6 separate regions of the Homo sapiens genome follow, and regions 1, 3, 4, 5 and 6 are each reported to be linked to region 2. Evidence: microRNA targets listed by miRTarBase, many of them from high-throughput screens and not tested one by one. Region 2 holds a microRNA gene; each other region holds the end of a gene's coding sequence.

What was found. Region 2 holds the annotated microRNA hsa-miR-6088 (AGAGAUGAAGCGGGGGGGCG, at 2,889-2,908, shown strand). A microRNA usually pairs through its seed, bases 2 to 8, with sites in the 3' UTR of a target mRNA and lowers its output. Matches are read on the target gene's strand: a 7mer-m8 pairs with bases 2 to 8, a 7mer-A1 pairs with bases 2 to 7 and ends in A, and an 8mer does both.
Region 1: miRTarBase lists GGA2 as a target of hsa-miR-6088. Seed matches in the 3' UTR shown: 7mer-m8 at 3,416-3,422 and 7mer-m8 at 2,910-2,916.
Region 3: miRTarBase lists TFPI as a target of hsa-miR-6088. Seed matches in the 3' UTR shown: 7mer-A1 at 2,203-2,209.
Region 4: the mRNA of STOX2 is a reported target of hsa-miR-6088. Seed matches in the 3' UTR shown: 7mer-A1 at 3,388-3,394 and 7mer-A1 at 109-115.
Region 5: miRTarBase lists PAPPA as a target of hsa-miR-6088. Seed matches in the 3' UTR shown: 8mer at 2,521-2,528.
Region 6: miRTarBase lists LRIT3 as a target of hsa-miR-6088. Seed matches in the 3' UTR shown: 7mer-A1 at 1,458-1,464 and 7mer-A1 at 1,504-1,510.

The regions. Positions count from the first base shown.
Region 1 is chr16:23,463,894-23,467,985 of GRCh38, forward strand. GGA2 (golgi associated, gamma adaptin ear containing, ARF binding protein 2) reads right to left here. Exons shown (of 17, transcript NM_015044.4): 17 at 1-3,807. The coding sequence ends at 3,697. Among named protein-coding and RNA genes, the nearest start is that of COG7, 13 kb to the left of the region's middle.
Region 2 is chr19:45,433,766-45,437,873 of GRCh38, forward strand. MIR6088 (microRNA 6088) reads left to right here and starts at 2,889; the gene lies at 2,889-2,939. It also overlaps a transcript of ERCC1 not described here.
Region 3 is chr2:187,463,668-187,467,775 of GRCh38, forward strand. It overlaps TFPI (tissue factor pathway inhibitor), which reads right to left. Exons shown (of 8, transcript NM_006287.6): 7 at 4,086-4,108; 8 at 563-3,375. The coding sequence ends at 3,269. All of the region lies in intron 2 of CALCRL-AS1 (CALCRL and TFPI antisense RNA 1), which reads left to right. Among named protein-coding and RNA genes, the nearest start is that of CALCRL, 17 kb to the left of the region's middle. RefSeq lists a silencer at 1,221-1,421.
Region 4 is chr4:184,016,665-184,020,766 of GRCh38, reverse strand. It overlaps STOX2 (storkhead box 2), which reads right to left. Exons shown (of 4, transcript NM_020225.3): 4 at 1-3,678. The coding sequence ends at 3,483. Among named protein-coding and RNA genes, the nearest start is that of STOX2, 110 kb to the right of the region's middle. RefSeq lists an enhancer at 3,080-3,579.
Region 5 is chr9:116,395,830-116,399,921 of GRCh38, forward strand. PAPPA (pappalysin 1) reads left to right here. Exons shown (of 22, transcript NM_002581.5): 22 at 680-4,092. The coding sequence ends at 787. It overlaps PAPPA-AS1 (PAPPA antisense RNA 1), which reads right to left. Exons shown (of 1, transcript NR_103711.1): 1 at 2,328-4,092. Among named protein-coding and RNA genes, the nearest start is that of PAPPA-AS1, 2.7 kb to the right of the region's middle. RefSeq lists an enhancer at 1-106.
Region 6 is chr4:109,870,464-109,874,463 of GRCh38, forward strand. LRIT3 (leucine rich repeat, Ig-like and transmembrane domains 3) reads left to right here. Exons shown (of 4, transcript NM_198506.5): 4 at 1-1,852. The coding sequence ends at 326. Among named protein-coding and RNA genes, the nearest start is that of LRIT3, 24 kb to the left of the region's middle.

The DNA.
Region 1 (4,092 bases), not on the chromosome of region 2:
GAATTCAAGGCTGCATTGAGCTACAATCACGCCACTGCACTCCAGCCTGGGCAACAGAGCAAAGCCCTGTCTCAAGAAAACAAACAAACCCACTTTTATACTCTTGACGCTGGGTAAGCATCTTCTATAATGGGTATATTTAAAGGATTTGGGATTAATATTGTAGTAGGCAAGCACTATTTGTATTCTAGAATATTGCCCTTGCTTTCTAGCTTTAACATTTTCTGTCTCAATTTACACTATTTGTACTAGGTAATATTCACTTTTCTTTTGGTTGTCATTTATTGTTTTCAACACTATCTTCATGACCTGTTTGTGTTCAGAGTGGCTCACAGATAAGGAAACATTTTTGCCCAGTCTTAAGTTCATGGAAGATAATAGGAAGAGTAATTAACTGCAGCAAAAGGTTAGGACAAAACATGGCATTATCAGGGCTTGAAAGGACTTTATTGTGGCTGTGGTGAAGCAGGCCCTGGTCTTGGCAGATGATACCAGAAGGGCACTGAGTGCCAGCGTGCAACTTGAATTTGATCCCATAAAGTCAGGCATCAGGAAGCCATTCAGAATTTTTCACCCTGTCAGATGCTCAGATTTGCTAGAGAACTCTGGTAGTGGCAAGAACCAGAGCTGTTACTCAGAATTGGGACAGAGGCATTGTCCCAAAAAAAAAAAAGCCCAAATCAGAGCAGTGGCAATGTAAGTGCAGGGAGGACATGATGTGGGATTATTTAGAAAACAGGCCAAATGACATGCAACTACTCTGCGGATACAGACGAAGCAGGAATCAGGGACCCAATAAGTCTCAGGTGCTTTCAAGTAAGAGCATGTAGGTGGAAAGGGGCAGGACTCTGGGTTCCATTCTAAGTAACTGAGACTGAAGCAACAGTGGAACCTCCAGATACAGATAACCCCTGACAGACTGAAATACGATCTGGCGACAGCAAGGAGGTGGCAGCTTGAGAGAGGTCTACAACCCACCTAATGGTTTAGAGCCACCTGACTACCAGGCCTGTGTGTGGACGGGAAAGTCCTGAGGATTGGACTCTGGAAAACCATCACACTTAAGAGACAGAGGAAAAAGAGCAGTCACGGAGGTAGGTCACGAAATGGGTCAACAGGACCCCCGAAGAGTTCAAGATACTGGAAAGCACTGGCCATGAGTGCCAGATCTCCAGCACACACATCATGAATTTGCTTCTCCCCAGAGGAAAAGAAGCTCCTTCAGGGTGGTGCCTGGCTCAGGGTAGCTGGTCAACAACTAGCTTTTAAAAAAACAGAGACACGGTCTCACTATGTAGCCCAGGCTGGACTTGAAATCCTGGGCTCAAGCGGTCATCCCACTCAGCCTCCCAAAATGCTGGGATTATAGGCGTGAGCCACTGTGCACAGCCAATAACTACTTGTTAAGTGAATGAAGAGGTAGGAGCTGGGCTCTAAGTGGCCACTGGACTTGCTGATTAGAAGGGAGTGATGCCATAAACCACAGCCACTTTCAGGACAGCAGCCTGCCTCCTCTCCTCCTACCCCTATCCTGTCCAACACCTAAGCATAGTAGTACCACTGGGAGTCTGTCTCCTCAAAAGCAAGAATGTTCAGGTACACATGTGTGAGTTCACCTCCTAACTATAGGGGAGAAAGCCTGTCTTTATGTATAAGTCTCATTCACCCATTTTGACCAAAACCCTTCAGAGGGAGATGCTGTCATTATGATGGGTACCTCTTCAAGACTACGCAACAGTAACAGAGCCTATAAAAGCTACACAGAGGCCGGGTGCGGTGGCTCACGCCTGTAATCCCAGCACTCTGGGAGGCCAAGGCAGGCGGATCACCTGAGGTCAGGAGTTCGAGACCAGCCTGGCCAACATGGTGAAATCCTGTCTCTACTAAAAATACAAAAATTAGCTGGGCGTGCTGGCTCACGCCTGTAGTCCCAGCTACTCGAGAGGCTGAGGCACGAGAATCGCTTGAACCTGGTAGGCAGAGATTGCAGTGAGCTGAGATTATACCACCGCACTCCAGCCTGAGTGACAGAGTGAGATATGGCCTCAAAAAACAAAAAAAAGCCACACAGAATACAAGCAAGAAAGTACTTTTAGATTAAAATTCGTCTTATGTGAATTATGGCAAATGAAATCACCCCACTGTTTACCTGTTTTATGAGTTTTTACATTTGCTTAAAATTAGCATACTTGATCTTTTACAGTTCCCATCTCCACCAATTAGTATTGGCAGATTTCCACTATATGTAGAAGTCAAAAGATCAGACTGTAAAAATATCAGATATTGTAATTAAGAGCTCCAAACAAGTCTTGCAGTTTCAAAGGTAGAAACCCACCCAGCCAGTTCAGCTGCTTGGACTTCAAAGCCCTCCGCCTAGCCATCTCAGCCAGGCTCAGGTTCCTTCTCCCACCCATCAGGCCAAGCAGGACTTGTCAAACATACACATTCAAGTTCCTAGCACACAGTAGGTGCTAAGTGGGAATTGATTATAAACTTGAATTCTTCCATCAACAAATATCCACCTCTCCTGTCCAGCTTGCCTCAGATCTTCAGGTTCTCTCTTCTCTGAGGCAGCTAAGCTTCTACATCCTTCATGAAGTTTCCTTTACTTCTCGACAGAAGACAGTTCCCTTTAGGCCTATCATCTCTAAATGCAACTGGCTTTCCATTTTCCACTTACTCAACACTCCACAAAGTACACTTGCTACATGGTATTTATTCAATGACTGTATATTTAGTCACCACCTCAATCACTGCTAAGCTCTCTTCATGTCTATCTGTACCACAGTTTCCCATCTTAGACTGTGACGTCAGCTGGCAAGGGCTGGCTGTTGGCCGATTCATCATGACTGACATGGTGTGTCACAAAGAGCTCCAAGTAAATGCTGTGAAGGAAGAGGATGAGGATGGAGATGAGGATCCTGAGAAGGGCCCAGACTGGCTGCCCAACCCATGGACCTGAGGCCTGAGTAAGGCCTGGGAGCTGCTTTCCCCTCTGCCCAGGAACTCTGTCCAGGGGCGATTCTAAGGCACAGTGGTGAAGGACATGATTGGTCCCCCAAGTGTGGTCCTCAGGTCTCATGGCAGCCACTCGCCTGGGAACAGTGCAACAAGCATTCCATTTAGAAGATCTTCCAGAACACACACAAGAAGCATTGTCTAATGAAAATGGAGACAAGGTCTTTCTTGGAAGAGAGTGCCCAAGTAGATACTCTCTGCCCCAAGACTAACCAGGTCCCTTTTAAGGTCCCTGAGAACAGCAGCCTGGGAGCAACCAAGCCTTTCAAAGGCTGACAAGGCACAGAGTGGATGAATGGAACGAACGATACATGAAAAAAACACTTTGGCTGATAAAACCTCCAACCTGAGGCAGGGACAGTGTCGCTCGCTGACATGCAGAAACATGACTGTAGCAGAGATGATGATGATGAGAAATGCTTCGCATTTCCCACACTGCCGATATCCCAAGCCCTGTGCTACCACCCTCTCCCCGAACACACACACACACACACACACACACACACACACACACACACACACAGAGCATCTGCAGAATAAGTCAGAGGTTGACACCCAGAGCCTGACGTCAGGATAGGACTCTTGGCACTCCGCACTGAAACACCGTGATTAGTCCTGACTAGACAGCAAAAGTAACGCCAGCCTAAGCTTGAAATGAAGGGTCCATCTTGTGAAAAGTTAGGCTGCGCCCAAGACAGCCAGGTCTGGGAAGTCTTTCACTTCTCCTACTTCGCTGAAAGGCTGTCCACCTTGGTTGAATGTCAGCTTGTACCGTAAGCGGATAGGTTCCTGGGACAGAAGAGACAGAAGATGTCAAATCAGTGGAGAGCAACCCAGGAACAGGGGTCAATGTTAAGTCAAGTGAGTGTTTCAAACAATTCTGACACAAAATACCTGGGATACTCTCTTTGGGACTACAAACAAGGGGAAACAGGCACATATCCTGGGAACCCTTCGATAATTCTGCAGTCCTGAAATCCTGAGATGGGCTGCAATTCAGAGACCAGCTAAGGAAGACAGACCTTGTCCTTTCAGAGGACTCCAGAGGATTAGGGAGAGTTCATGTGTCCCTCC
Region 2 (4,108 bases):
CATCATTTTAACTTTGAAGGAGAGGACGAGTGGATGGGAGGGTAGCGGAGGTTTCTCTGTCAAAGGAGCATTTAAGGAGAGACCTGGCTGGGCACAGTGGCTCACACCTGTAATCCCAGCACTTTGGGAGGCCAAGGTGGGTGGATCACGTGAGGTCAGGAGTTCGAGACCATCCTGGCTAACATGGTGAAACCCCGTCTCTACTAAAAATACACGCACACAAAAATTAGTCAGGCATGGTGGCATGCGCCTGTAGTCCCAGCTACTCGGGAGGAGGCTGAGGCAGGAGAATCACTTGAACCCGAGAGGCAGAGGTTGCAGTGAGCCGAGATTGTGCCACTGCACTCCAGCCTGGCCAACAGCAAGAATGTCTCACACACACACACACACAAAAAAAAAAAAAAAAAAAAAGAGGAAGAAGAAGAAGAGACCTGTCCATGTGCCCTGGCTCACACCTGTAATCCCAGCACTTTGGGAAGCTAAGGCTGGCAGATCGCTTGAGCCCAGGAGTTTGAGACCAGCCTGGGCAACATGGTGAAACACCGTGTCTCTCCAAAAAATACAAAAAAAAAAAAAATCGCATGGCTTGGTGGCATGTGCCTGTAGTCCCACGTACTCGGGAGGCTAAGGTGGGAGGATCACTTGAGCCCAAAAATGTCAAGGCTGCAGAGGGCCATGATCATGACAATGCACTCCAGCCTGGGCAACTGAGTAAAGCCCTATCTCAAAAAAAAGAAAAGAGAATCTATCTGGCAGTTTTCTCTCTTGCCTTCCAATCGTTGCATCTCATTTATTTTTCTTGTCTTACAGCATTTTTTTGTTTTTGCTTTTGTTTTCCGAGACTGAGTCTTGCTCTGTCACCCAGGCTGGAGTGCAGTGGTACGACCTCAGCTCACTGCAACCTTCGCCTCCCGGGTTCAAGCAATTCTCCTGCCTCAGCCTCCCGAGCAGCTGGGACTACAGGCGAACATTGCCACACCCGGCCTTTTTTAAAAATTTTTTTATTTTTATTTTTATTGTTTTTTTTGAGACAGAGTTTCGCTCTTGTTGCCCAGGCTGGAGTGCAATAGTGCGATCTTGGCTCACTGCAACCTCTGCCTCCTGGGTTCAAGCGATTCTGCTGTCTCAGCCTCCTGAGTAGCTGGGATTACAGGCATGCACCACCACGCCCGGCTAATTTTTTGTATTTTTTTTTTTAGTAGAGATGGGGTTTTTCCACGTTGGTCGGGCTGGTCTCAAACTCCTGACCTCAGGTGATCCACCTGCTTCAGCCTCCCAAAGTGCTGCAATTACAGGCATGAGCCATGGTGCCTGGCCAAATTTTTGTATTTTTAGTAGAGACGGGGTTTCCCCATGTTGGCCAGGCTGGTCTCAGACTCCTGACTTCATGATCCATCCACCTTGGCCTCCCAAAGTGCTGGGATTACAGGCATGAGCCACTGTGCCAGGCCCATTTTACAGCATTTCAAACACTTCCAGGACTATGCCGCACAGTAACATTGATTCTCACAGCAGCCCTCCACACTACAACCCTCTGAGATGACTTATCTCACCATGCCCATTTTACAGAGGGAGAAACTGAGGCACAGGGAAGGTAGACTCTTATCCAAGGCCACATAGCAGGTAAACAAACAAACTAGGACTCCAACCAAACCTTGTGCTCTGTCTCAGCCTTAAAAGAAAACTCAATAAACATTCTGGCCTTTTTGTTTTTGTTTTGAGACCTTTATTCTGTTACGCAGGTTGGAGTGCAGTGTGGTGATCACAGCTCACTGCAGCCTCAAACTCCTAGGCTCAAGCAAACCTCCTACCTCAGCCTCACAAGTAGCTGGGACTATAGGTGTGCACCGCCAGAGCTGGCTATTTTTGTGTAGAGATGGGGTCTCGCTATGTTGCCCAGGCTGCTGATCTCAAACTGCTGGCCTCAAGGGATCCTCCTGCCTTGGACTCCCAAAGTGTTGGGATTACAGGTGTGAGCCTCCATGTTCAGTCCACATTCTGTACTTTTTTTTTTAGATGGAGTCTCACTCTGTCACCCAGGGTGGAGAGCAGTGGCGCAATCTTGGCTCACTGCAACCTCTGCCTCCCGGATTCAAGCGATTCTCTCAAGTCTCAGCCTCCCAAGTAGCCGGGAGTACAGACATGTACCACCATGCCCGGCTAATATTTTTTGTATTTTTAGTAGAGACGGGGTTTCACCATGGTGGCCAGGTTGGTCTTGAACTCCTGACCTCAGTTGATCTGCCCACCTCATCCTCCCAAAGTGCTGAGATTACAGACATGAGCCACCGTGCCCAGCCTATTTTTTTTAAAACGGGAAAAATATCTGTAAATTGCCACAGTGACCCACGGAGCCTGGATGAAGAGCGGGAAGCCTGAGGTCTCCTTCAGTCTCCATCCTCTCTCTGAGCCTCAGTTTCCTTCCCTATGTGGAAGGGTTGGAAAAGATGTTCTCTAAAAGCCTCAGAAACTCTGCCGTTAGCGTGGAGGGGACAGAAGCTCAAACAGATTGCATTAGTTTCTTAACGGCTACTATAACAAATTATCCCCAATTCAGTGACTTAAAACAAGAGAAATTCGGCCGGGCGCCGTGGCTCACGCCTGTAATCCCAGCACTTTGGGAGGCCGAGGCGGGCGGATCACGAGGTCAAGAGATCGAGACTATCCTGGTCAACATGGTGAAACCCTGTCTCTACTAAAAATACAAAAAATTAGCCGGGCATGGTGGCGGGCGCCTGTAGACCCAGCTACTCGTGAGGCTGAGGCAGGAGAATGGCGTGAACCCAGGAGGCGGAGCTTGCAGTGAGCCGAGATCACGCCACTGCACTCCAGCCTGGGTGACAGTGAGACTCCGTCTCAGACAAACAAACAAACAAAAATAGTTTTGTAGAGATGAAGCGGGGGGGCGGGGTCTTGCTCTATTGCCTACGCTGATCTCAAACTCCTGGCCTTGACATTGCAATCTGCCCGCCTTGGCCTCCCAAAGGGCTGAGATTACGAGTGTGAGCCACCCTGGCCTAAACATTTAAAACGACATGTGTGACAGCCAGGCATGGTAGCCTGCACTTGTAATCCCAGCTCCTTGGAAAGCTGAGGTGGGAGGACCCCGTGAGACCAAGAGTTGGAGATCAACCTGGGCCATACAGTGAGACTCCATATATAGTGGATTCCAATATAGTGAGACTTTAAAATATAAAATAAGGGCCGGGCATAGTGGCTCACGCGTGTAATCCCAGCACTTTGGGAGGCCAAGGTGGGTGAATCACCTGAGGTCAGGAGTTCGAGACCAGCCTGACCAACATGGTGAAACCCCATCTCCACTAAAAATACAAAATTAGCCAGGCGTTGTGACACACGCCCGTAATCCCAGCTACTCAGGAGGCTGAGGGAGGAGAATCGCTTGAACCCAGGAGGCAGAGGTTGCAGTGAGCCTTGATCACGCCACTGCACTTCGGCCTGGGCGACAGGAGCAAGACTTCATCTCAAAAAAGAAAAAGAAAATATATATGTGTGTGTGTATATATATATATAATAAGTAAAAATAAAATCGTACATATGGATCTAGCAGACTCATATACCTCTGGTTATATTTCCAAAGGAATTGAAATCAGGATGTCGAAGGGTTATCTACACTCTCAAGTTCATTGCAGCACTGGTCACAATAGCCAAGATATGGAGTCAACCTAAGTGTCCATCAAGGGACATAATGGATAAAGCAAATGTTGCATATACACACGATGGAATACTATACAGCCTTGAAAAGGGAGGAAATTCTGCCATTCAAGACAACATGGATGGAACTGGAGGACATTATTCTAAGTGAAATAAACCAGACACAGAAAGACAAACACCACATGATCCCACTTTTATATGGAATCTTAAAAAGTCGAGCTCATAGAAACAGTATAAAGGTGGCTACTAGAGTCCAGGGAAGTGGGAGAGGGTTGGGAAAAGAGAAGATGTTGATCAAAGGGTGCAAAGTTTCAGCGAGACTGGAGAAATATATTTCAGTGATCTATTGCACAGCATGGTAACCACAGTTAATACTAATGTATTGTGTATTTCAAAGTTGCTAAAATAGAGTTTAAATTTTTTAAATTTGTAAATA
Region 3 (4,108 bases), not on the chromosome of region 2:
GTGGGGAAAGTGATTAAAGTACATCCCAGCCAAAGTCCCTGAGAAAGCACTTAAAGTCAAAAGTTGGAAACACTAAATAAAATTGCTAATTTGCTAAAAACCAGGTAAGAGCAGGAGCCGCTGATGACAGAATCAACCAACAGCCTAGTTAGCTAGTTTAGTGTCATGATTTTTTTTCTTCTGATATAGAGATGGGCTAGGCCAAATACAATAGCCAGGATAGGAAGTTATGTAATGTATAGTTATATAACATATATTTAAATATACATGTCTATATTCATACAATTGTATATGAAATGAGTGATGAAAATATATATGTAGCAGAGTAAATTTTAAATGTATAGATTGTTAGGACATAGTGTACTAATTTGTTTGACAAATAAATTATAATATATGGGTGTGTACTTGCAATTAAAAGGCAGCTATTAACAATTCCAATTTAAGGAAATAAAACCAGAGTGTGGGAACAATCATTTTTGGTCTTAAGATTTTGTACCGTTATGATAACTAATGAGCATTGAATTCTTTATGTACTAAAATCTTTACGAGTACAACAGCCAGGTTTCATTATTCAGAATAATATATTTTACTTCTTATAATGTAAAAAATATAATCGTTTGAGTGGTTTTCAGCATGATCTGTTAATTTTGAATACAGAGAATGAACAAAGCAGGTAAATATATGTATATGCTGAATAATGTAATTCCATATACAATTCACAGTTAGATGCACTTAATTGTGGAAAATAAAGGAAGACAATAACATCAAGATCTTTTTCCAAAACACGGTAAAAATAACGTTCACATGCATTAAACATTTCAAGCCATCTCAGTATATGTCTTTCTTGAGTAAGTAGTGAACCAATGGACCAGTGGTTATTGTTGGAGAAAACAATTAGGCAACTCATCAATGCGCTATTTATACAATCTTAGTGACTATTTACCACTTCACCTAAGTAGACTTTCCCACTCATTTGAAGCTATTGCTATCTATAAATAAATGGCAACAGGAAATGTTTCACAAGGGCCTTTGATTTCCAAAACTCTCAAATTCCACAGCAAAGACTCAATTTAAGGCAATTATTTATGCACTGAATATTTGAATGAAGATGTATTATTTTCCTTAAGTGAAAAAAGCTGATACTATTTTGTAATGATAAAATTTGTATACCATAGTAGAAAATGATTTGCAATTATGTGTTAGGACTTTTCATATTCCATATTGAAACATAGTGATTCTGTAGCTGGCATCAGCTGTACCCTGACTTCACATGAATGGCCTGGAGGGGATCATATTTTTAAACAGGAAATCAGTGTGAATTAGCTGAGTAATTAACATTCAGTGTACAGTGAGCATTCTTAACTAAATCAAAGTAGTCATGAAAGAAAGTACTGTTGGTAAATCCAAAAACATACATCAAAATTAAATGGTGAGGTTGAAGGTTGTAGTTAAGTACCAACTAGTGTGAGTTCTGGGAGCATTTTGAAATGGTGGAGGAATGTACTAAATTTCTGAGGAATTAATACTGATGGGAAGGATGCAGTAAAGAGTAAAAACGGGGGCATTGTGGTTTATACCTGTAATCCCAGCACTTTGGGAGGCTGGGGCTGGAAGATTGCTTGAGCCCAGGTGTTCAAGACAAGCCTAGGTAACGTGGTGAAACTCGTCTCTACAAAAATTACATAAATTAGCTGGTGTGGTGGCCTGCACCTCTAGTCCCAGCTAGGTGGGAGGTTTCAGTGTCCTGTGATTGCACCACTGCACTCCAGCCTGGGTGACAGAGTGGGACCCTGTCTAAAAAAACATAACAAAACAAAACAAAATGAAAAAAAAAAAAAAACAAGAAAAAAGAAAAGAAAAAGAAAAAAGTAAAAAGCCTAGGGATTGGGTGAACTTTTTCGAAAAAAAAAAAAAAAAGCATAAAGATTTGGAGACTGTTTAGATGTGGTATATGAGGGAAAACAGGAAATCTAAATTGAGTTCAAAATTTCAATCCTGAAGAACAGGCAGAATTATACTATCATTGTTAGCGAGAAGTCATGAAGCTATTCATGAAGCTATTCATGAAGCTAGTCATGAAGCTAGTCATACCAAATGAATGAAATGGTTGTTTCTAAATCAGTTCCAATTCCAGTGTCAGATTTGAGGTGAACACTACAGAAACTGACATGTCTTGGAGGTTGTTGAGGTTGTTGAGGTTGTTGAGATGCCAGACTGCACATGGCTCAGCAATAAATGAAAGATACAGGTCTGGATATAGTGAATTAACTCCAGCAAAATATTAAATCCCCAAGAATGACTAGCACATGAATTTTCTAGTAGACTCTTCCCTGCTGATAATTTTCTCTTCAACAGAAATAACCTACTTTTTAAAGCATGAATTATTAGTTGCATTGTGTGCAAATCCTAATGATAACTGAATAGATTTCAGAAGGTTTAAATATTTTTGTTATTTTTAGTAAGAAAAAATATTGGGAAGCATAGTATTAAGAAGTACATATAAATAATTCCCTCTCGATTGCCATAAAACTTCTTGTTTCCATAAAGGTTCTCCTTATCATGAGTTGTATTTAACACACAATTATTCAGTCATCTTGACTGATAGAATGGGCTATGGTCAAACAAAAAAAAAAGTGAAACCAATCCAAATCAGGCAGGCACATGATGCAGAGTTGACTGTTCAAAGACAGTTTAGCTCAATATAGATGGAAGTACTGGTTAGTACAAAAGGAGAAAAACTATGTCTAAGGAGGGAAGCACATAATAGAATTCTATTATTACAATAGAATACTATAAATACAAAATTGGATAAACTTTATCAGAAGCAGGTGTTTGTCACCATTTTATATGTGAAACTCAGGAAGTTCTTGATTTTTTAAGAGCTGTATTCCTTAATCTGGTTACAGGCTATAAAGGAGATAATCATTTACATGATCATATTCTCAAACAGATGGTCACCAAATGGAATCAAAGGACTGATTTGATGTAGCCGGTAGTATGATAATTTGTAGTTAAATGAAAATACAGATAGATCCAGAAAATAAGTAATTTCCCAGTAGCCAGTTAATAAATTACAGACCTAGAATAAGCAATTTAACAAGATTAGAAAAGCAACTCTGATACAAACGTGTTGATAACAAGTACAATAAGCATAGAAAATTTAATGAACATATTAATTAAAAGCATTTTAGAAGAAAAATAGAAAATCATAGTGAAACATTTCATATAAAATATTTAGTAGAATTAATGTTACATTGCTATAACAAATTCACATATTTTTAACAAAAATTTCTTCATATGCTATTTTCACTCTCTGCTTCTTTCTTTTTCTTTTGGTTTTAATTAGGCCTCCTTTTGATATTCTTTGGATGAAACCTATAAGAGGAAGAGGAATAAATTAATGTGTGATAAAATAACACAATGAAATGTTTTATCTAAAATCTTCTCAAAGTAACTTTTAATATTTAAATCCAAAAGATGTTATTGATTTAAAAGCCTTTAATTTGTCCATGTATTCGTGTAGAACAATTTATTTTTAAGGACGTTACTTTGCATATATGAGTTAATAAAAATGGATAAGCATGCCGTTCATTTTTATTATTAGTTCCTCTTCTGTTACAAATCCATGCTTGCTTTATTTTTAAATAGTAGAAATGTGGTTGTATGTGGTTGATTAAGTTACAGATAGTTTTTATTTGCATTTTTATACTCTTCTTAGTCTTTTATAAACATGCATTACTTTTATATTCAGAAGACATTAATAAATATGTTAAAATTTTGTGCATTACAAGAAAGCTTAAAACAATTTTGGTATAGTCTTTTAAAGTGAATGCTTAGTATTTGAACACTAAAAGAATAACATGTTTAATTTGTTTTAAATTGATTCTTTTTCTATGAGGACATTAAAAGAAATTACAGTTACATATCTAGCAATATTATCTAAATGTAATTGAAGAGGACATTTATTAGCTAGATTATACTTTCTTATAATAAAGATAATTAATTTCATATCTTAATAGATTATCATTTCAATTCAATTGCTATCTTAAACACTAGTCAATTAATGGGAAGAGTATCTTCTATACCTTTTTTACATGCCCTCAGACAT
Region 4 (4,102 bases), not on the chromosome of region 2:
GAAGAAGTAATTTGTTATTTTTATCCAGCTAGTCTCCATTCACCTCTTCTATTTGTTTTCTCTATTTGATGGCACCCCCCCCCCTTTCATATGTTCATTATGGTCCCCTGAGATGTGCAAAATATATATAATGGAATACAAATTATTTAACAGAAGTTGTGGAATTCACAGCACAGCTCTTTTAATTAAAGTGGAGTTTGGGCTCGACATGGTAGCATGCGAGTGAAGGCAGAGCCCGAAGTGCTTCAAGCTTGGCAGTCCACATTGCTTGTGTGTCTTCTGTTACTGAAAACTTAGACTTCAAATCAGATTTCCAAAAGAGTAAATAGCTCTTTCAATTACGTTCACCCATTGGCTCTTCGCCAGAGAACTTTTAACAGGAATGGGTGGAGGGCGGGGGTGGGCACAAGAATTTTTAAACTTCCGTTCATTCCTAACAAAATCGAGTGCGCTTTCGTGGGGAAGAGAGGAGAAGACAGGATTACATCTGAAAGCCAAACAGCGGCGTAAGAGAAAGCCATGGCGATGGAAAGTCATGAGTCCACAGAGGCAATCACTGACACACACAGCACGCCATGCCCTAATGTTGAAGGAAGTGTTCAACTTTGCTCTTCTGAACGATACACTTTAACACACGGCTGCCATTTCATCAAATTTATGGAGGTAGTTATATGTAAAAATAAAAATTACCATAAAGTAATATGTTGTATCATAATAATACATAAGTGTGCAAAATGCCGACAGATGTGTTGACCCTTTCACAGAGATTCAACCAGATTCAGTTTTGTAAACCTTTCAGCTGCTAAACCCTAAGACTGGATAAGCAGTCGTGTAACACAAAGCTATGATTTTACAGGAGGAAAGGGATACTGGCAACGCCTGGCGAGGCCCCCACTGTTCCGGGACCGAGAGCCTCACCGTGACCTCGAATGACATTTGCAATGTGCTGCCGGCTGCCACTCCTCCCCCATTCAAGAATCTCGATCAGATTCAGGCAGGAATATTTTTATATGCAACATCTGCTTACATGGTATCACCTTTAAAGTCCATCATTTCTACACTAATGGCTGCTGGTCTAAGGGAGTTTTTAAAAAATTATGTACCCCATAGCATCAGGCAAATAGTGTACATATTTATTTGAATAATGTCTTCTGTAAACCTATATCTTGTGAAATATCAATAAATTCCTATTTTAAAGCTTCTCTTAAAGGTAACGCTTTCCTTTCCTGTTCACACAGTATTCGATTATTTCAATGGCTACTTTCAGAGGATCAGCTAGAGGCTGATGTGTTGTTTCAATGGTTATATTATTTATGAACTGAGAGTAGAAGAAAAATTTGAGAGCAGGTTTTTGGAAAAAATGAATTTAGACAAATATTTAGTAACTGTATGATATATAACTCCCCAAGGGAACCAACTATGTAGTCTATTAGATACATGATCATTCCTTCTGGACATATTTAAGCAATGAGACAAACAATGCGTTGAGGCATGCCTTGGAGGAAATAAGGCATGAGACTGAAAGCCAACTGGCTTAAGCATTTCAATGGTATGGGAGTTTACTAAGAAACATGCTGAAGTTTCACTATAATAAGCAGAAAAAAGGAATTTACACCAAACTCAAGGAGTTCAGTTTGACCCAATGCAACTTCCAAATAACTGAAAAACTATGAGGGAGCATTTAAAGGTTTCAAGAATGAGTCCAACTGTGTATAGGACTGGATTCTTTAAACAGATTGCTAGTGATTAAACCTCATACAAAAACAGATGCGTCTCACAAATCATATGCCAATTACTGAAATTGGAGGTGAAAATATTCTAGATTTATTTTGGGATATATATATTTTATGGTGTATGGCTCCCAACAGCACATGCCACTGAACTAAATAAAACTTTATGTCAGAACACTTACTTGTGTCATATGTAACCCTTTTGCAAATAATATTCCATTACTACAGATCTGTCCCACTGTTCTCAGAAAATAAAACATGGGAACGTTGGAATGTCTCCTTGCTATAAGATGAAATTATTGGTCATCCCTTTGCTGCTGGGTCTTCTTTGTGTTCAACATGACATTGTAAACCAAAGCAAAATGTTAACAAACCATTTGGAAATAAGTTGGTCTAATTAACTACACATCCAGCTAAAAACGCCTCCTGAAATTGGTTACAAAGTATCTGTAAACATTACTCTGGCATAGTTCATGTATGCATAATTGTTATTCTGATAAATTTTAGGGGAGTACAAATTCGGATTATACCGCACTAGCAGAATGAGCACATTCTGTTGTTTATTACATGGGCACATGTATATTTCTAATCAAAAATTATTTTAAAAGTTTTCTCTATACATATCTTCCCAGGAATAAAAGGCCTGAAGTTCAACACTCCCTAAATTTGCTCTTTCCTACAACCACTAAAAATTATCTCCCACAGCCTAATTTAGGCATTCTATTTAAAACTACATAAAATAGATTTATGTCCTTCCATTAGAAAGAATAACATCCTCAGGCCCTACTCTTCATTTGTATCACAAAGAACATTTTGCTTTTAAACAAACTAATTATTGTATCTATTAGAGTAAGATAGGGTCATCCTAAGTATCACAAGGAGGAAATTCTCTTCCTTCAATATTTGAGTAACACCTTTTACAAGTCCACATCACCTTTTCAATCACCTAATGCTGTGCCCCAGCCAGACTGGAAATTGCTTTCCTTTGTCCACTTCAGATTCAAAGGCCTATATTCCTGTTTGTGATCACGGAAGGTTAAAAAAATCAGACAAGCATCTGTGACACTTCAAAACAAAACCCTGAAAACATTCACTCCCAGTGATCTCCATTGCGACCCCTTCTCACACACTTCCATGGGCTCCTGCAAAATAGTGTCACGAAAACTCACAGTGAAAAATGACTGGTGCATAAACAATTCACACACAAAGGGCCGGGGTCCCTTCTAGTTAGTTTGGCATCTATTTCCCTCAAGGTGGACCCTTGCATTTGACATTTCGTGGTAGCTTAGTTTTGTTTTTTGTTTTTTTTTTTTAAATTTTTTTTGTTTTGTTTTGTTTTTTTTTTTTTGGAAGTGTCAAGGATCAGTTCTGTGGCACCGTTTAACCACAGACTGGGAGCAACACGCATCTGTGGCATTTTAAAATGGAATTGGCAACTGCATGACATTGAAAATGCGTATTACACTTACAGTGTCTAGACTTTCCTATGTGTGCTCAGATACAATTAGTGAAGCAAAAGTATACATATCACCCCTACTGTTACTCAGTTGCTACAGAGCCATAAATGTGAAAAGCAATACTCTGAAATAAAGATTTTTTGTTTTTTTGCCCTAGCCCTACTTAGCAGCACAGTTTAAGTAAACACAAAAACTGTGGTTGAGATGCTTGTCTTTCCAAAGATGTAAACATCAGTCCCAGTGTCGTAAACTTTGCTGTATCGAATGAGACAGAAGATCTGAGGCAGAAGGACAATCACACGCTAGTAACAGAAGCTTGCAAGCAGTTGGAAGGTTTCTGTAGCTTCTCAGCTTCATTTGTCGGGGGCTCCGCGCTCGCTCGGAAGTTGAAGGCTGGACCAGCTCCACCATGGGCCGGGCTCAAAGCGGGGTTCTGACGACGGTTACTTTCAACAATGCTTGATGTGTTGGAAGCCAGGCTCTCCCGAGTACTAAAAGAGCAAAAAGGGTTTGTTTTGTTTTGTTTGGAACATAAATAATTATAAATTGAGCCCCAGAGGAAGAGCAAATGATGTCGTTAATGGATTTCCTCTGTTGGTTCATAATGTCATATCAATATACATCTCGACTGATTATTCACATCTGCCTCTCCACCACTGGCTCCAGAAGCTTCCACAGACATGTAATAATCAGCAGCACACTCAGTGAATAAAGGGTTTTTAAATAGCTAAATGCACTTTGAAATGTCTTCTCCTTTTTTTCACACTCAACGAAACGACTTCAAAATTTGAGGTGATAGCTAGCTATCACAGTGGTTTTTAAAACAGATACTCATAAATACACCTAAGTCATGATTTCATTTCAGGCTGGAAATTCACTGGCATAGCCGCTCCTGAACACACTCGATAATTTTAT
Region 5 (4,092 bases), not on the chromosome of region 2:
AGACATGCTTTTTGTTTTCATCATTGCCTACTAAAGTCAAAGTGACCAGTATGTGCAGAGACTTATGTTTTCTCAAAAGACACTTCCACATCCTTTCTTTCACTTGATCACTTATACATCAGATATTCCATTACACAGTTCTATTAATCAACTTTGCTACAGTGCACGACAATTTTCCACCCATGATTTTACTCAGCTCCTATAGTTTAAAATACAAAGTGGGTCTTATTATATCAGCTCTACATAGGGACCTGAGGCTCTGAGATAAGTAAGTAGCTTGTTTTACTTTAAATACCAGACTTGACACTTATTATTACTTTTGGCAAATTCTTATTCCTTTCTGAGCTTCAGTTTCCCCATCAATAAAAGGGTGATTGTTGCAGCATCTGTCTTATAGAGTTGTCAAAAGTGTTTTCTTGTTTGGAAATCACTGAGTACATTGCCTTACCCCATAGCAAATGCCTGACCCATAGCAAGTGCCTCTGCAAATGAAAACTGCTGTGATTATGATCATGGTGTGCTCGATAAAAGTTATCACCAGGATAGCAAGAAGCAGAGCCATAACTTGAACTTGAACCTTCTGCTCCTCAAATCCAGTGATTGTATCCCTGCGCTGCACTGCCTTTCTGATCATTACTGCTTCAGACCAAATCACCTGATTCACTTCTTCTTTCTGCAGGTCACCCCATTCCCTATGTCCTGTGATCTACAAGGTGACTGTGCTTGTCGGGACCCCCAGGCCCAAGAACACAGCCGGAAAGACCTCCGGGGATACAGCCATGGCTAAGGAAGGACAAGAAGTTGTCAAAGAATTCCCAACGCCAGGACCCACATCCCTTTGGTATTGATTTCACAGTCAGCTGCTCAACGGAATGGCCTCTCCACACCAGGGATCCTTAGCACCCAACCGGTCTGCCTTTAATTTTACCCAGGAAGGACTCACATTGGGGCGAATGAACCAAGTTTCGCCATGCTGGATGATGAAATGGATTCCCATCCCAAAGTCTGAGATGGATTGCATATACAGTGTGCAGTCCCAGAGCCTCCTAAAATTCTAGCCATTTGTCACACAACCACAGCAAGAAACGTGTTCTATATCTAGAGTGTGCCCATCTGTGTTTAGTACACATGCATGCATACACACCCATACAAACATCTGTGTGAGGGCAGTTCTGGAGATGAGCAGAGAGAGACCGGAATAAACTCAATCTTTTCTTTCCCAAGCTCCTAGCCAACACTATCCTTGGGAGAAAGAAATTTGCAGAAACTGCTAAGACCAAGTGTGGAGATGTCAAGCTAGTTCACACTCTGAGGCTCAGAATATGTAGGACATGCACAATTGTGCAGTCCTTTGGGATTGGAAGTGAAACAGTCTGTGATCCCCTACCTTCTAGGGAACTAGGACCTAGGAAGAGGTAAAGATTATCAGGTATGCAAAGCGCCCCAATTCTTCTGCTGCCATGGGGGATTTTACCCCAACTCCAGGGTTCGAGGCCAATCTGAGAATGGCTTAGGATTGCAATGTCAAGGTATTATATCAGCCCCTTGCTTGAGGCTTGAGGTCATAATATCCCTCTAGGACTTACCTGTTCCCCCAGATCTTGCCTTGGGACCACATTTGCTGCTACTTTTCCTGCTGCTCTATCCTATACATTGAATAATCCAAGATGGTAGAACTAGGTTAGGAAAAATTCCACACAACCAAACAGTCTGCCTTAAAAGTGACCCACATTTTTCCATAGCTCCTCACTTTTTAGCCCTTCTGCAAGAGAAAAACCCTCATGGGTCCACATGGTGAGAAGTTAAGTTTCCTGTAAGTGGGCCTCTCACCCTGGAAAGGAGTTGAGGGACATCAGATGCTGGAACCCTCACTGAAAGTCCAGAATGTCTAAGCCAGTGTTAGATTTTGTAAACAAGTGGAACAGTGTTAAATTTCTATGATGTTGGAGCCATCCAGAGACTACTGGAATTGTCGAGACTTTTGGATTATTATCCTTATCCTTATCCTAATCTTCCTAGCCCTTCAGGCTAGAGTAGGCTTTGATCCTGAGAACCTTGCTGTTGCTCTGAGGAGATATAATTCTGGGAGAAAGAATCTTTTATAAGAACAGTACAGATTGTTCTCAAGAGGGCCATCAGAAGGAAGCCAAAGAGTTCACAGCCTCAGCACCAACAACTCAACATGGTCATCATGTTTTCTATATGGTTTTTCCAGCTAGCAGTACTCCCTTCCATACCTGTGACTGGGCAGTGCTTTTCTCTCTCCCATGTCTAGCCTCCAAAAGTTAAGTGAAAATTAGTCAACTGCACGTGGAAGCCCCCACCACTTTGGGGATCTCTTTATTTCTTTTCAGCCAGGGACCTGTCCACTCCCTTTGAATTAATATGGGAAGAAATTAATACAGGATGAACTGGAGAGAAGGGTTGAGTGTGGCATACTTTCTGAAACCTGGAGCTGGGAATTGCGGAGAAGGGAAGGTCTAGACTAGTTACATCACATAGGGATTACTGTAAATCAAGTCATCTCAAGTCTAGTGAAGACAGCCAACAGAAACAAAACCTAGCATAGGGATAGAAAATACCATGCACGTGTGCAGCCCCACCTAATTCCTGCATCCAAGGCAGGTGTTGTTAATCTATCATAGCACTTAAAAAAAAAAAAAAAAAGAGACCAAAAATAACTTTAGGAACCACCATATTATATCACTCCCAATAGCACTGACCTGGTGATCAAAAACACTTGAGAAGACATCTATTGGCCATCTCTGGCCAATTACACTAAGAAACATATCAAGGTGCTTTTGGCACAGGTGCCCACAAATACGGATGCAGTGCTGAGATAGTTTATGAGACTTGTACCATTTCACAAACTCTGAAATTGGGTTCCATATTGGCAAGGCTGCCACAGTTGTTAAGAATAATCCTCTATGTTTCTTCCTCACAAAACCATATCTCATTTATATCCAGACCATTACTTCACTATAATTACAAGGACAAATTATTAGCAAGAAATAAGAATAGTATTAGAAGAATTGATCCTATTTTGAACCCCTCTCCAGTATCTTCACACTCTTGTCAACTCTCCAGGCCTCTCTCTTGCCCTGAGTTATCAGCCTGTGTGGTGTTAACTACCTTAGAAGGTACAAGCTAAGAAATGTAACAGTATCAACCCTCCCAGTTGCTTAATTATACCCATAGGTAATACAAAAAGCTCTGAAGACCCAAAGATGACATTACTAATGATGTGATTTCAGGAGCCACAGAAGAACCTTACCAGCTTCCCTCAAATCAGTCCTTATCCTCTTTCTATCTTCACTCCCATCATCATCTATTTTCACACTATCCAGCTAAGCAAAGATTCCTGGAGGCTGACTTGTATCTTCAGACTCACAGAGTGAATTCAGCTCTTCTGAATCAAGACCCACCCAGTCTCTTTCATTCAGACCTGTTGCTAACAAATTTATATTTGCCAAGGATATTAGGCAAAAGAGGCTACTTGATTGGTGGCCAACCTCGTGCCCACATGGAAGGTATCTTTAATAGGGTCTTTTCAAACCTTAGTGGAGGAGGGTCAGCTCAATTTGGGCAATGCATTTGTTCCCAGTTTCATTTTCTTCCTGGGAATTAACTCGTCATTTCATTCCTTCAGTCATCTTCTGTGTAGGTGACCGGAGCACTGAGAGGCAGCTCTGATGCACTATTGTGTGTCAGCAGCTCAAAGGCCCTAAAACACTGAAGGTTCTGCATCTGAAGTATTAGATTGTTAGCAGCAAAATATGAAAGATGAGGTGGACAGTCCTCTAAGCCCTATTTAGGGAAGCTTTTCCAAGCCACAATCTTAACTACCTACCCAAAGGATTTGCATTACCCCCAGATTCTGTGCCAACAACCTTTTAAGGAAATACAGTCCTTGGGAAATGAGTTTTGATGGTGAATTGGGGTGTTAAGGAAGGGAAAGATTGTCATAGATGGTAGGGCTTTGAAAATGCAGGGTATCAGCTGCCACTCCTGGCTTCAACACATTGAGTCACTGCCTAGACGGTTCTCTTGGTCTTATTCCCATCCTGGCCAATGCTTAAATACTATTTGTTG
Region 6 (4,000 bases), not on the chromosome of region 2:
AAAGAGTTGAAGGAGATGATTCTCAATGGTCTCTCCTTCTCGTGGTGACCAGTACTGCCTGTGTTGTTATCTTACCATTGATTTGTTTCTTGTTGTACAAAGTTTGCAAACTGCAATGTAAATCAGAACCTTTTTGGGAAGATGATTTGGCAAAGGAGACTTATATCCAATTTGAGACCCTGTTTCCCAGGTCTCAAAGTGTAGGTGAGCTCTGGACACGAAGCCACAGGGATGACTCAGAGAAATTGCTGCTTTGTTCTAGGTCAAGTGTGGAATCTCAGGTGACTTTTAAAAGTGAAGGTTCCAGACCAGAGTATTATTGCTAAGGTTCTGCAGCTCAGGTGCATGTGAGCTACAAAACTAGCATCTAAGGGTATAATTGACCCTAGGTTTGGATGACTTTTGGACAGACTTTCACATTGTACATGAAAATCACAAATGGAATGCTTTTAAGTATGTTTAAAAAATACCATGAGACCTCTGAACTGAAAAGACAAATAATGTTGATTTTTTTTCTTGTGTGGAAAAGGTCTACAGAAATAATTTTTAGAGTGGTGCTTAATAAATTATTAATACTTTTTAGGGTAATGTTTTAGTTCTTAAAAATAAGTTCATGTGAAAGTAGCAAGTGAACTCTGTATTTAAAAATATAGTTTTTTGAGTCATGAGGAAACATTAGCAAAACCAGCTAAGCCTTGATGTTTATTCATGTTCGAAGTGCATTATAGCATTTGCTGTGGATGTTTTCTGACATTGCCTAATGGAGAGCGTGGGATCATAAAGGATTTTGTGTTCACTAAGGTTAAATCTAACTCACGGGAGAGAGAGGGCTCTGTCTCTTGGTACCATTATGCATTGTGATACTATAGAGTTGTGTTCATATTTCTTGTAAGAAAAATTTTTGCTTTTCTTTAGAAATATAGGTATTAGCAAAAGTAAGTATACAAAGAGGATTATGACAAATAGACCATTTCTTTAAAAATGGTAACTGTTGCATTTAAACACATCGACTGACAGATTATATGGATATTTAAAAATAACTTTAAATCAATCTTTTAATATTTTGCTGTTTGCTCTTATGTTCTCCCTTCTTTCTTCCTTCCTTGTCTTCCCTCCCTTTCCTTCCTTCATTCTTTCTTTCTTCTGCTCTGTCAGAAGATATACAAGTAGCCAAAGCATCACGAGCCAAGCTGTTTGTCTTTTGCCATATTGTCTTTTGATTCTCTTGATAAAGAGAAAGCTTTTGAAATTACTTACTGCCCTTTGAAAGTCTGTTTTACAACCCCAAAGGATATTTTAGGACTTTAAAAGGGAAGCTTCAGTGGATTCATTTGGTTAGATTCTTTTCCTAGGTTAAAAACATCGGGGAACTTAAATACATAGGAAAGGAGTTCACAAATAAAATTTAGTTTTTTTAGAAAGAGAATATTTTAATAACTGTAGTATACTACAAGAAACATCTCATGGCTTTAAGATTAACGATAGCGATAAGGCCCACTCAAGCATCTCACAGTGGTGATATTACATGTCACTTAGCAGGATGCAACCTGGCCTAGGGATTTCCAGAAGACAAGGCCACCTCAGCACAGATGCAACTTTCATAAATTTTAGAACAAAGCCTAACCTTACTAGATTAAACTTGCTCTATGAAAGAAACACTTGGTAATTGACCCAGACTGAATACATGTATAAGAAATGGGAAAGATCTCCCAAACTCTGAGAACGGTCCTCAAATAGAAGCTCTCCTAGTCAGTTGGTCATCTGACCTCTGACTATATCCGGCCTATGACACCAGCCAGCTCCTGCTTTCTGTCTTGTAAGAGCACTGCTGGAATAAACTACTTGAGCATTAGATGGTGTCTAAGACTCATCTTTGATGACAGGGATAAATCACCCTTGTGAAGCTGGCTAGCTGGGACCACCCAAAACCTCAGAACACAACTAGCAGTGAGGATGAAATTTGAGTAAGCCAATGAGTGATGACACCCATTTCTACAGGAGGATCAAGGGAGAGTGGCCAGGGCCTGGCTCTGATCGAGAGATTGGGTGAGGTCTGAGGAACACTCTACAGTGGGTCTGGCAGTTTTTGTTCTGTTTTCACATGTGTTGCTGCCTTCTATCTTTACTTTGTGCCTCTGTTTTGGAGGTCACCACCAGGTAAAATTTGCCAAAATTACTTTTAAGACCACTCTGGTCCCACAGGAAGGTGGGCTTCTAGGAGGAGGGTGGTAGGAATGCTGTAGGCTGGGGGACACCCTGGGCTTGAAGAGCCAACCACCAGCTGGTATGTTTCTAGCCTCAGCTGTGGGAGAGGAGCTCCTCGTCCCCAAAGGTCCTGGCATCATGACCCCATAGACCAAGAAGGCTCAAGTACATCTTCTCCACAGAAAGCTTATCTGTTGTCTGCCAACTGGGGAAAGAGACTTCTCCAACATACCCCGGTCTAATGCCGTTAGCAAAGTCACCAAATCACCAACGGGCATGTTGCTGCCATCCCTGTTCCTCTGCATGCTCCCAGTGAGACAGTGCGGCTTCTCCAGGGCTTTACCACCCCCTACAATGCCTGCTGGGTGCTGCCAGCAGCAGCCCATGAGCAGCACATCCAAATCATAGGGGCTCACCTCAGAGTTGCCACTCTGCACCTGGCTGACCTGGAGGCCTGTGAGCTGTGATCATCCTGAGTGCACCAGATTACCCCCAGCAGCACCACAGGCATTGCCAGTCACCACCTGGACACAGTTAAGAAAGCAGCTGCCACCTCCGCAAACAGCGAGGGTGAGGAAGAACTAATCTCGGATCCCAAAGCAAGCACTCTGTCTAGCAGGACTCGGTTAGTAACTGTCAGAGCTGGTTGTTACAAAGTGAGGTTCTTCCTTGCCTTGGCTCCCTTTGGCACACTCACTTCCTTTTCCACTTCTCTGCCATGCTGTGACATGGCAGAGGCCTCACTGGAAGCTGACCAGATATAGTGGGCAGATCTTTGACTCCTAGGCCTCCAGAATTGTAAGCCAAAGTAAACCTCTCTTCTTTATAAATTACTCAGTGTCCTGTTCTGGTGACTCTCCCTTATGCCTGTCTATTCTGTTATGACCACAGAAAACAGACTAAGAAAATTCTTATGGATAGAAGATGCATTCTTACCTTAAATCTTTAGAAACCTATGAGGGTTTCTTACGCTTCATAGAAGCATATGAGGGTTTTTTGTTTTTCTGTTTTTTACCTTATTAAGTCAGGAACTTGCACCTTTTCACGTAAAGGAAGCACTTTACAGCTTCTCTTTGGCATATCCAAGTTGCCTGCGTCACTATTCTTGTGCTTTGGGACCACTGTCAAGTAAAATAAGGGTTACTGGAATGCAAGCACCGTGATACCACGACAGTCCATCTGATAACCACGGCGGCTTCTAAGTGACTGATGGGCAGGGAGTGCATGGTGTGGATCCTCCAGACAAAGTGATGACTTATGTCCTGGGTGGGACGGAGCAGGATGGCAAAATATTTCATCAGACAACTCACAGCCACACCTCCTGGAAACACTCAAGAGCCCTACTTGCATTTGGCAGCCATCTGAAACGGACAAAACCTGAAACTCTAGCTTGACTGGACCACCTCCAAGATCAACTTAAAATTTATGAATTGTTTATTTGTAGATTTTCCATTAAAAATTTTCGGACTGTGGTTGAAGTTGGGTATCTGAAAACGTGGAAAACAAAACCTCAAATAAGGGGGTACTACTGTAGGCCCTTTGACACAAGCAGAAATTCGAAGCCTGCTCAAACACCTGATGCAGAGGCCCAACAGGAAAAGTGCCACCTGGCTGTGGTGTGCGTACTGAACAGGAAGGGTCTACAATTCACAGGCCAAGAATACAACAGCTGGCAGCTATCTCCAAAGATGGGAAGATTGATTTCATTACTTAAAGATCCTGTCAAGCTTCTCCAGGAAGCACAGTCAGGTGGGACTCTGGGCCCAGAGCAGGCAGACGTGACAGAAGCTATTCC